Regions from separate parts of the Homo sapiens genome. Here region 2 is linked to region 1. Evidence: fine-mapped QTL for protein levels in blood plasma. A gene starts in region 1. The other region holds a variant in brackets. All regions are shown on one strand. Distances are from middle to middle.

Region 1 (4,117 bases):
TCTTCTGTTCCTAGAATCTCATCAGGCTTCCACCTCAAGGCCTTTGCACTGGTTGTTCCTGCTCCTTGGAAAGGTTCCCTGCCCATCTGCCCTACTTCTTCCCTCACTGCATTCAGCCTCTGCTTGAATGCCACTTGCTCAGGGAACCCCTCCTGGATCACCCACCTAAAACAGCTCACACCTCATTTGCACCCAGATACTTCCTTCAGCCTGCTTTGTTTTCTCCAGTTTGCTTATCCCTCTCAGACAGTGAAAGATTAGATAACACATATCTGCTCCCCACTGTCAACACAACAAAAGGTGGGAACTTTGCTTTGCGTCCTGCTGTGCCCCTAGCTCCTGGACCAGTGCCCAGCACAAAGTAGGTCCTTGGTAGATGTTAAAGGAATGTGTTGAGCCCTCCATTTCGGCCAGCAGCTATTCCAGGCATTGCACCTACATTAAATTGCTCTGTTTAGTTAGATGCATCCTAAGACGGGGAGACAATTTTATCTTTAGTATTTTATTTTACTTAAAAAAAAAAAAAACTTGGCCAGGTGCAGTGGCTCATGCCTGTAATCCCAGCACTTTGGAAGGACAAGGCAGGTGGATCACCTGAGGTCAGGAGTTCGAGACCACCCTGACCAACATGGTGAAACCCCATCTCTACTAAAAATACAAAAATTAGCCGGGTGTGCTGGCGTGCCCCTGTAATCCCAGTTACTCAGGAGGCTGAGGCAGGAGAATTGCATGAACCCAGGAGGCGGAGATTGCAGTGGCCGAGATTGCACCACTGCACTCTAGCCTGGGTGACAGAGTGAGACTTCGTCTCAATAAATAAATAAATAAATAATAAAAAGAAAGAAAAAACTTATTATAAGCCTTTTCAAACCCACAGAAAAGGAGACAGAATGGCATAATATGCCCTTATATACTGATTACCTTTATATAATTGATACAACCATTTGGCTATTTTGCCTTTATTTTCTACTCAAGTATTTATTTATTTATTATTTTTTTGAGACAGGGTCTCGCTCTGTTGCCCAGGTTGGAGTGCAGTGGTGCAATCATAGCTCACTGCAGCTTCCAGTTCCCAGGTTCAAGCGGTCCTCCCACCTTAGCCTCCCAACTACCTAGGACTACAAGTACGGGCCACTGCACCCAGCTAATTTTATTTTATTTTTAATTTCTTTTGGAAAGATGAGGGCTCTTTATGTTTCCCAAGCTGATCTTGAACTCCTGGCCCCAAGTGATCCTCCTGCCTTGGCTTCCCAAAGCATTGGTGTTACAGGCATGAGCCACCTCATCTGACCTCTTCTAAAATATTATAAAATAAATACAGACATCAAAATGAAAACAAAAGAAAAAGAAAAAACAAAACAAAAATCCCCAAAACAACAACAACAAAAAATGCAGACATCAATAACATTCACCACTAAATACTCTAGTAAGCATCTGCAAAAACAAACAAACAAACAAAAACCAGAATCCCACCTAAGCATACAGCCATTGTCGTAACAGTGATATCTACTTTTTTGGCTGAAGTGTCTTTTTTTTTTTTTTTTTTTTTTTCTGTGAGAAGGAGTCTTGTTCTGTTGCCAGGCTGGAGTGCAGTGGCACGATCTCGGCTCACTGCAACCCAACCTCCGCCTCCCGGGTTCAAGCGATTCTCCTGCCTCAGCCTCCTAAGTAACACACACACGCCACTACGCCCGGCTAATTTTTGTATTTTTAGTAGAGACGGGGTTTCACCATTAAGTGTTTTAATGTAGGTGCAATGCCTGGAATAGCTGCTGGCCAAAATGGAGGGCTCAACACATTCCTTTAACATTTACCAAGGACCTACTTCGTGCTGGGCACTGGTCCAGGAGCTGGGGGCACAGCGGGAAGCAAAGCAAGGGTTAAGTGTTTTAAGTGTTTAAGAGATGCATATTTCAGGATGCATCTCTAGATAAGGACATTTTCCAAAATACCAGTATCCCTCCTGACAAAACTAACAAAAATCCTGTTAGCCAAATAATCAGCCACATTCATATTTACCGTCAAAGTTTTTATCCTCATTTTACAGCAGTGGAGAGCGATTGCCCCGGGTCCCACGTTAGGAAGAGAGAGAACTGGGATTTGCACCCAGGCAATCTGGGGACAGAGCTGTGATCACAACTCCATGAGTCAGGGCCGAGCCAGCCCCTTCACCACCAGCCGGCCGCGCCCCGGGAAGGGAAGTTTGTGGCGGAGGAGGTTCGTACGGGAGGAGGGGGAGGCGCCCACGCATCTGGGGCTGACTCGCTCTTTCGCAAAACGTCTGGGAGGAGTCCCTGGGGCCACAAAACTGCCTCCTTCCTGAGGCCAGAAGGAGAGAAGACGTGCAGGGACCCCGCGCACAGGAGCTGCCCTCGCGACATGGGTCACCCGCCGCTGCTGCCGCTGCTGCTGCTGCTCCACACCTGCGTCCCAGGTAGGGGCTGGGTCCCGAACGCCTGCGCCTGGAACAGGGTCTAATTGAGGGGGTTGGGGGTTGTCAGAGGATGAGTTGGAGGAATGCGGTTCAGTCCTCAGCATCCTCCCTAATCAAATAATAGTAATTCTCGTGCTTTGTGCAACGCCACGCGGCGCAGTACCTGGCACTCAGTAGCTAAGGAAATATTAGTGGAGCAAAGGCATTTAGCTTTACATAATTTAGTGAGTGCTTTTTTTTTTTTTTTTTTTTTTTTGACAGAGTCTCACTCTGTCGCCCAGGCTGGAGTGCAGTGGCGCGATCTCGGCTCACTGCAACCTCTGCCGCCCGGGTTCAAGCGATTCTCCTGCCTCAGCCTCCTGGGTAGCTGGGATTACAGGCGCCTGCCATCGCGCCCGGCTAATTTCTGTATTTTTAGTGGAGACCGGGTTTCACTCTGTTAGCCAGGATGGTCTCAATCTCCTGACCTCAGATGATCCACCTGCCTCGGCCTCCCAAACTGCTGGGATTACAGGCGTGAGCCACCGCGCCCGGCCCAAGTGTTCTTTTTTTAAATGGAGTTCTTCGAAGCCTCTTCCTTGCAATTTCAAACTAGGCGATGGGACTTTATTAATTTCGTTTCGCAGAGGAAACTAGGGCACAGAGAGGTTAGATAACTGGCCTAAAATCACACAGCCAGTGCTTGAATACGCAGGATCTGACCCTGCAGCGCCCCCCAGCGCTCTCCACGCTGCTGGGTCTCCCCCTCTGAGAAACGGGGGGACAGGACCCCCTTTTACAAAAGGCCCAAAGGGAGGCTGACTGAGCGGCGCAGAGCCAGTGCTGGAGACCCGGGACTGTCCCTCAGGACCTTTCCCTCTCACTGAGGCGACTCTCACTTACTTCCCCGGAAAATGTGGGGGGCTCTGGGTCGAGGAATTCGAGAAGGAACTGAGTCAGGGCGGGTGGCCACAGGGTGTTGGGGCCGCGATGAATAACCCGGAAAGCGCTCGAGACCGCGGGAGGCCGGGAATGAGTAACAGCTCCGGGATACTCCGAACGCGCAGCTGGAAAGGGATGTCCGGGAAGGCCCGGAGGTCGGGGACCGGGCCTAGGGACTGGGCTGCAATCTCGGGGCGGAGCCTGGGGCGGGGAGAGAGTGTCGGGGAGGAGCCAGAGGGCGGGGCTGGAACCTCAAGGAAGAGCTACGGGAGAGGTTACAGACCGAGGAAGAGCTAGGAGCGGGGCTAGAACCTCGAGGCGGAGCCAGAGGGCGGGGTTATAACCTCGAGGCGTAACCAGAGGGCGGAGTTATAACCTCGGGAGGAGCTAGAAGGTGGGACTAGACTCTTGAGGGGCAGGATTATAACCTCGGGGAGGAGCTAGAGGGCGGGGCTGGAACCTCAAGGAGGGGCTAGGGGCGGGGTTATAAGCTTGGGGAGGAGCTACGGGGCTGGGCTAGGACCTCAAGGGGCCAAGGGGCGGGGGTTACGACCTCGGGGAGGAGCTACAGGGTGGGGCTGAAACCTCAAGAAGGGACTGGGGCGGAGTTATGACCTCAGGGGAAAACTAGGGGCGGGGAGAGCTAAAGGGCGAAGTTAGAATCTCAAGGAGGAGCTAGAGGGAGGGACTAAAGCCTCGAGGAGGAGCTAGGGGCGGGGTTATGGCATCGGGGAGGAGCTAGGGGGCGGGAAGATAAGGTCA
Region 2 (5,518 bases), 22 kb after region 1:
TCGGGAGTTCAAGACCAGCCTGACCAACATGGTGAAACCCCATCTCTACTAAAAATACAAATTAGTCGGGCATGGTGGCACATGCCTATAATCCCAGCTACTCGGGAGGCTGAGGCAGGAGAATCACTTGAACCTGGGAGGCAGAGGTTGCGGTGAGCCAAGATTGTGCCATTGCACTCCAGCCTGGGCAACAAGAGTGAAACTCCGTCCCAAAAAATAAAATAAAATAAAATTAAATTAAAATTAAAACTGAGAAATCTTTTTTTTTTTTTTTTGAAATGGAGTCTTGCTCTGTCGCCAGGCTAGAGTGCAGTGGCATGGTCTCAGCTCACTGCAACCTCCCCCTCCTGGGTTCAAGCAATCCTCCTGCCTCAGCTTCCTGCATAGCTGGGATTACAGGCATGAGCCACCATGCCCAGCTTATTTTTGTAATTTTAGTAGAGACGGGGTTTCACCATGTTGGCCAGGATGGTCTCGATCTCCTGACCTCATGATCTGCCTGCCTCGGCCTCCCAAAGTGCTGGGATTACAGATGTGAGCCACCGTGCCCAGCCAAAACTGAGAAATCTTTAAAGATTTATTTATGAATTCATCTTATAACAATAAAAACTCATTACACATTAAGATAAATAACATTTTAATGAAAAATAAGTATAGTTTCCAAAGAAAAAATGTAATGATAGCCAGGCATGGTGGCTCATGCCTATAATCCCAATACTTTGGGAGGCCAAGGTGGGCGGGTCACTTAAGCCTAGGGATTTGAGACCAGCCTGGGCAACATAGCAAGATCCTGTCTCTACAGAAAATACAAAAGTTAGCTGGGCATGGTGGTGCATGCCTGTAGTCCCAGCTGCTTGGGAGGCTGAGGTGGGAGGGTCACTTGAGCCTGGGAGGTGGAGGTTGCAGTGAACGGAGATTGCACCACTGCACTGCGGCCTGGGCAACAGAGCGAGACCCTGTCTTAAAAAAACAAACAAAGAAACAACAAAAAAAAAACCAGCCAGGCGCGGTGGCTCACGCCTGTAATACCAGCACTTTGGGAGGCCAAGGCGGGCAGATCACAAGGTCAGGAGTTCGAGACCAGCCTGGCCAATATGGTGAAACCCCGTCTCTACTAGAAATACAAAAATTAGCTGGGCATGGTGGTCGCGCCTGTAGTCCCAGCTACTTGGGAGGCTGAGGCAGAAGAATTGCTTGAACCCGGGAGGCAGAGGTTGCAGTGAGCCGAGATCGTGCCACTGCACTCCAGCCTGGGTGACAGAGTGAGACTCCATCTCAAAAAAAAAAACAAAAAAAAAGCGTAATGAGAAAACTGGCATTATTTTGCTGTGTTGCACATCTCTTTAATGTCCAGCTTAATAGAAGACAGCTGGGTCCTCATGGAAGCTTCTGCTTTCAGTCTCTTGCAATATCACATGTCCTGGAGTTTTTGGAAAAGCCCATTGTACACTTATGAGAGTGAAAAAGCCATGTGAAATCACAGATCTCCTGAAAGGGTCTCTGGGGTCCCTGAGCCACACTTTAAGAACCGCTGCTCGCTTCCTTTCTTTCTTTTTTTTTCTTTCCTTTTCTTTCTCTGTCTCTCTTTCCCTTTCTTTCTTTCTTTCTTCCTTCCTTCCTCCCTTCCTTCCTTCTTTCCCTTCTCCTTCCTTCCTTCCTCCCTCTCTCTCTCTTTCTTTCTTTTCTTTCCCTTCTTCCCTTCCTCCCTTCCTTCTTCCCTCCCTCCCTCCCTCCCTTCCTTCCTTTCTTTCTTTTTATTTGTTTTTTGAAACAGGGTCTCACTCTGTTACCCAGGCTGGAGTGCAGTGGCGTGATCATAACTCACCACAGCCTCCATCTCCTGAGCTCAAGTGATCCTCTCATCTCAGCCTCCCAAGTAGCTGGGACTACAGCTGTTTTTTTCTTTTTTATGTTTGTAGAAACAGAGTTTTGCTATGTTGTCCAGGCTGGTCTGGAACTCCTGGGCTCAAGCTATCCTCTCTCCTTGGCTTCCCAAGGTGTTGAGATTACAGGCATGAGCCACCACACCTGGCCCTGAGAACTGCTGCTTTCTCTAGGTGGTAGTGAAGGTGGCACCCACTGCAAGGTGGCAGGTCACCTACTGGAGAATTCCAGTCCTGGGCCCAGGAGCTGGAAGTCTCACTCCGTCTTCTCTTTCCTCAGAACCGAAAAACCAAAGCTATATGGTAAGAGGCTGTGCAACCGCCTCAATGTGCCAACATGCCCACCTGGGTGACGCCTTCAGCATGAACCACATTGATGTCTCCTGCTGTACTAAAAGTGGCTGTAACCACCCAGACCTGGATGTCCAGTACCGCAGTGGGGCTGCTCCTCAGCCTGGCCCTGCCCATCTCAGCC[T/C]CACCATCACCCTGCTAATGACTGCCAGACTGTGGGGAGGCACTCTCCTCTGGACCTAAACCTGAAATCCCCCTCTCTGCCCTGGCTGGATCCGGGGGACCCCTTTGCCCTTCCCTCGGCTCCCAGCCCTACAGACTTGCTGTGTGACCTCAGGCCAGTGTGCCGACCTCTCTGGGCCTCAGTTTTCCCAGCTATGAAAACAGCTATCTCACAAAGTTGTGTGAAGCAGAAGAGAAAAGCTGGAGGAAGGCCGTGGGCCAATGGGAGAGCTCTTGTTATTATTAATATTGTTGCCGCTGTTGTGTTGTTGTTATTAATTAATATTCATATTATTTATTTTATACTTACATAAAGATTTTGTACCAGTGGACAAGGCCAGGTATGCCCTTCTTTGTAGTGTCTATCTTTGGGAGGATAAATGGTGGGGGACACCTTTTCACAGGCTCCTGGAATCAGGGGTCATGTTTGAGGCCCCTGCCTAGGTTGGAAGTCCTCCTGGGGGCTGCCTCCACATCTATTTCTGGACTCCAAATGCTGACAGAGCAGGAGCACTGCCATCTTGAACAAACACCACCATTCTTAGTTCCTCTTGATTAAAAATCGGCTAAATCCGGACGTGGTGGCGGGTGCCTGTAGTCCCAGCTATTCGGGAGGCTGAGGCAGGAGAATGGCGTCAATCCGGGAGGTGGAGCTTGCAGTGAGCCGAGATTGCACCACTGCACTCCAGCCTGGGTGACAGAGCAAGACTCTGTCTCAAAAAAAAATCAGCTAAATCCAGCCCCAAAACATCAGCCTAATGGCTACCATCAGCATAACCAGAAACATTCCAACCCTAAGATAAACCCCTCTCTGACCAGAAACATGCCAACCCCCAGATAGCCTCCCTTCCGACCAGAGACTTTCCAACCCCACAATAAACTTTTCCTCACATGAAAACATTCCGAACCTAGATAAGCACCCCCTTCCAAAACTCTTAAATATCCTTAGTCTGTAAAAAAAAAAAAAAAAAAGGGCTCTCTAACCTAACTCAGCCAAAAGCCCCCCTCAGGTTGGTTTTCTCTAAAATAAACCTGTCCTTCACCGTCAAGCCACATTTCATGTTTCTTTCCTTTTCCTTTTTCTTTTCTTTTCTTTTCTTTTTTTGAGATGGAGTTTCACTCTTGTTGCCCAGGCTGGAGTGCAATGACACAATCTCAGCTCACCACAACCTCCACCTCCTAGTTCAAGGGATTCTCCTGCCTCAGCCTCCCAAGTAGCTGGGATTACAGGCATGCACCACCACACCCGGCTAATTTTGTATTTTTAGTAGAGACAGGGTTTCTCCATGTTGTTCAGGCTGGTCTCAAACTCCCAACCTCAGGTGATCTGCCCACCTTGGCCTCCCAAAGTGCTAGGATTACAGGCATGAGCCACCGTGCCTGGCCTCCTCTTTCTTTAATTCTTACAAATGCAAGCTTCCAGATCACACACTGAACACTAACCTTCTAGTCTTCTCCTAAACTTCAAAGGTTGCAACTATTTTGTTGTTCTAAGGAGACATCCCCACATTTCCCAGCATGCTTTGGGAAAGGAGACGGATAGAAGATAACCTGATGGCCAGAACTCCCTGCATGCACTGCAGTGAGGAATAAGGACAGGAGTGCACTTCCCCTGATGTGCTGGGGACCGGGGATAAAGGCTGGGCTCTATTTCCCGGGATGCCTCAGGACTGTCAGAAAAAGAGACAGAACTACCATTTCAATGGCACTCTAGGAGCACAATATTGAAAAATTCATGTTCTTCTCATCATTTGCTAAGGCAACCCATGGAGACAAAAATTACATTCCCCATCAAATCTTGTGGCTAATGAAGAAAAAATAAGATATCTTCGGCTGGCTGTGGTGGTTCACGCCTGTAATCCCAGCACTTTGGGAGGCCGAGGTGGGCAGATCACTTGAGGCAGGAGTTTGAGACCAGCCTGGCCAATTTGGCAAAACCCCGTCTCTACTAAAATTACAAAAATTAACCGGGTAAGGTGGTGGGTGCCTGTAACTCCAGCTACTCGGAAGGCTGAGGCAGGAGAATCGCTTGAACCCAGGAGGAGGAGGTTGTAGTGAGCCAAGATCACACCACTGCATGACACAGTGAGACTATCCCCAAAAAAAAAAAAAAAAAAAAAAAGACATCTTCCATGGTATTTGGGGGCAGGTGAGGGACAAGGTTCTTGTTTAGGGCTTTCTCTAATGACATATCACCACCTGTCACTGTAGTGGCTTAAAGAAGTGAGGTCTGTACTTCTGCCTCTTGAATATGAGTGACTCTGTGACTGCTTTGACCAGTAGAATGTGGTGGAAGTTTTGCTGTGCTATGTTCTGGAACCAAGTTTTAAGAAACTTTCATTTTTCACTTTCTGAATCTTAGAACGCTCACTCTGGGGAAGCTGGTTGCCATGTAAAAGTACTACTGCCCTGAGACCACCATGCTGTGAGGAAGCCCAAGCTACTCATGTATAAATGCCATGTGGAGATAGAGCCCCAGATGTTTCAGCCATCTCAGCCCAGGCACCAGACAAGTGGGTGAAGAAGCCACCTTGGACATGTAGCCCCAGCAGATGTGATATAGAGAAGAAACAGGAAACTTGGCTATATTAGTTTCCTAGGGCTGCCTGTGATAAATTATTACAAACTTTATAAACTAACACATTGTGTGCCTATATCAAAACATCATGGAAGGACAGGCACAGTGGCTCATGCCTGTAGTCCTAGCACTTTGGGAGGGTGAGAAAGGAAGATCTCTTGAGCTCAGGAGTTCAAGATCAGCCTGGGCAACACAGTGAGACCTCATCTCCACTAAAAATAAAAAAAAATTGGCTGGATGTGGTGGGGCATGCCTGTGGTCCTAGTTACATGGGAGGCTGAGGCAGGAGGATCCCTTGAGCCCGGGAGGTCAAGGCTGCAGTGAGCCATGATCCCACCACTGTACTCCAGCCTGGGCAACAGAGCCAGACTCTGTCTCCAAAAAAAAAACACTAAAACCCAAAACCATATTACATATGTCCTGTAAATATACACCACTATTATGTATTCATAATACTTAAAAATAAAAAATTAAAAACACACACACACAAATCTTACAAGCAAGGTGGCTTAAAACCACAGAAACTTGGCCGGGTTTGGTGGCT

Evidence for each region. PIP is the chance, under the fine-mapping model, that this variant and not a neighbour inherited with it causes the effect. Sun 2018 read protein levels with aptamers (SomaScan).
Region 2: its variant is fine-mapped to the plasma level of the PLAUR protein (Sun 2018, PIP 0.95). The variant lies in the coding sequence of PLAUR. If it changes the protein, the assay may bind it differently, which can mimic a change of level.

What each region holds. Positions count from the first base shown.
Region 1 is chr19:43,668,383-43,672,499 of GRCh38, reverse strand. PLAUR (plasminogen activator, urokinase receptor) reads left to right here and starts at 2,331. Exons shown (of 7, transcript NM_002659.4): 1 at 2,331-2,434. The coding sequence starts at 2,380. LOC124904724 (a long non-coding RNA gene) reads right to left here and starts at 3,736. Exons shown (of 3, transcript XR_007067264.1): 1 at 3,317-3,736; 2 at 2,020-2,474. RefSeq lists an enhancer at 2,263-2,562 and silencers at 3,483-3,562, 3,603-3,832.
Region 2 is chr19:43,645,789-43,651,306 of GRCh38, reverse strand. It overlaps PLAUR (plasminogen activator, urokinase receptor), which reads left to right. Exons shown (of 7, transcript NM_002659.4): 7 at 2,164-2,728. The coding sequence ends at 2,417. Among named protein-coding and RNA genes, the nearest start is that of CADM4, 8.7 kb to the right of the region's middle. The variant T/C (reference allele first, on the strand shown) is at 2,359.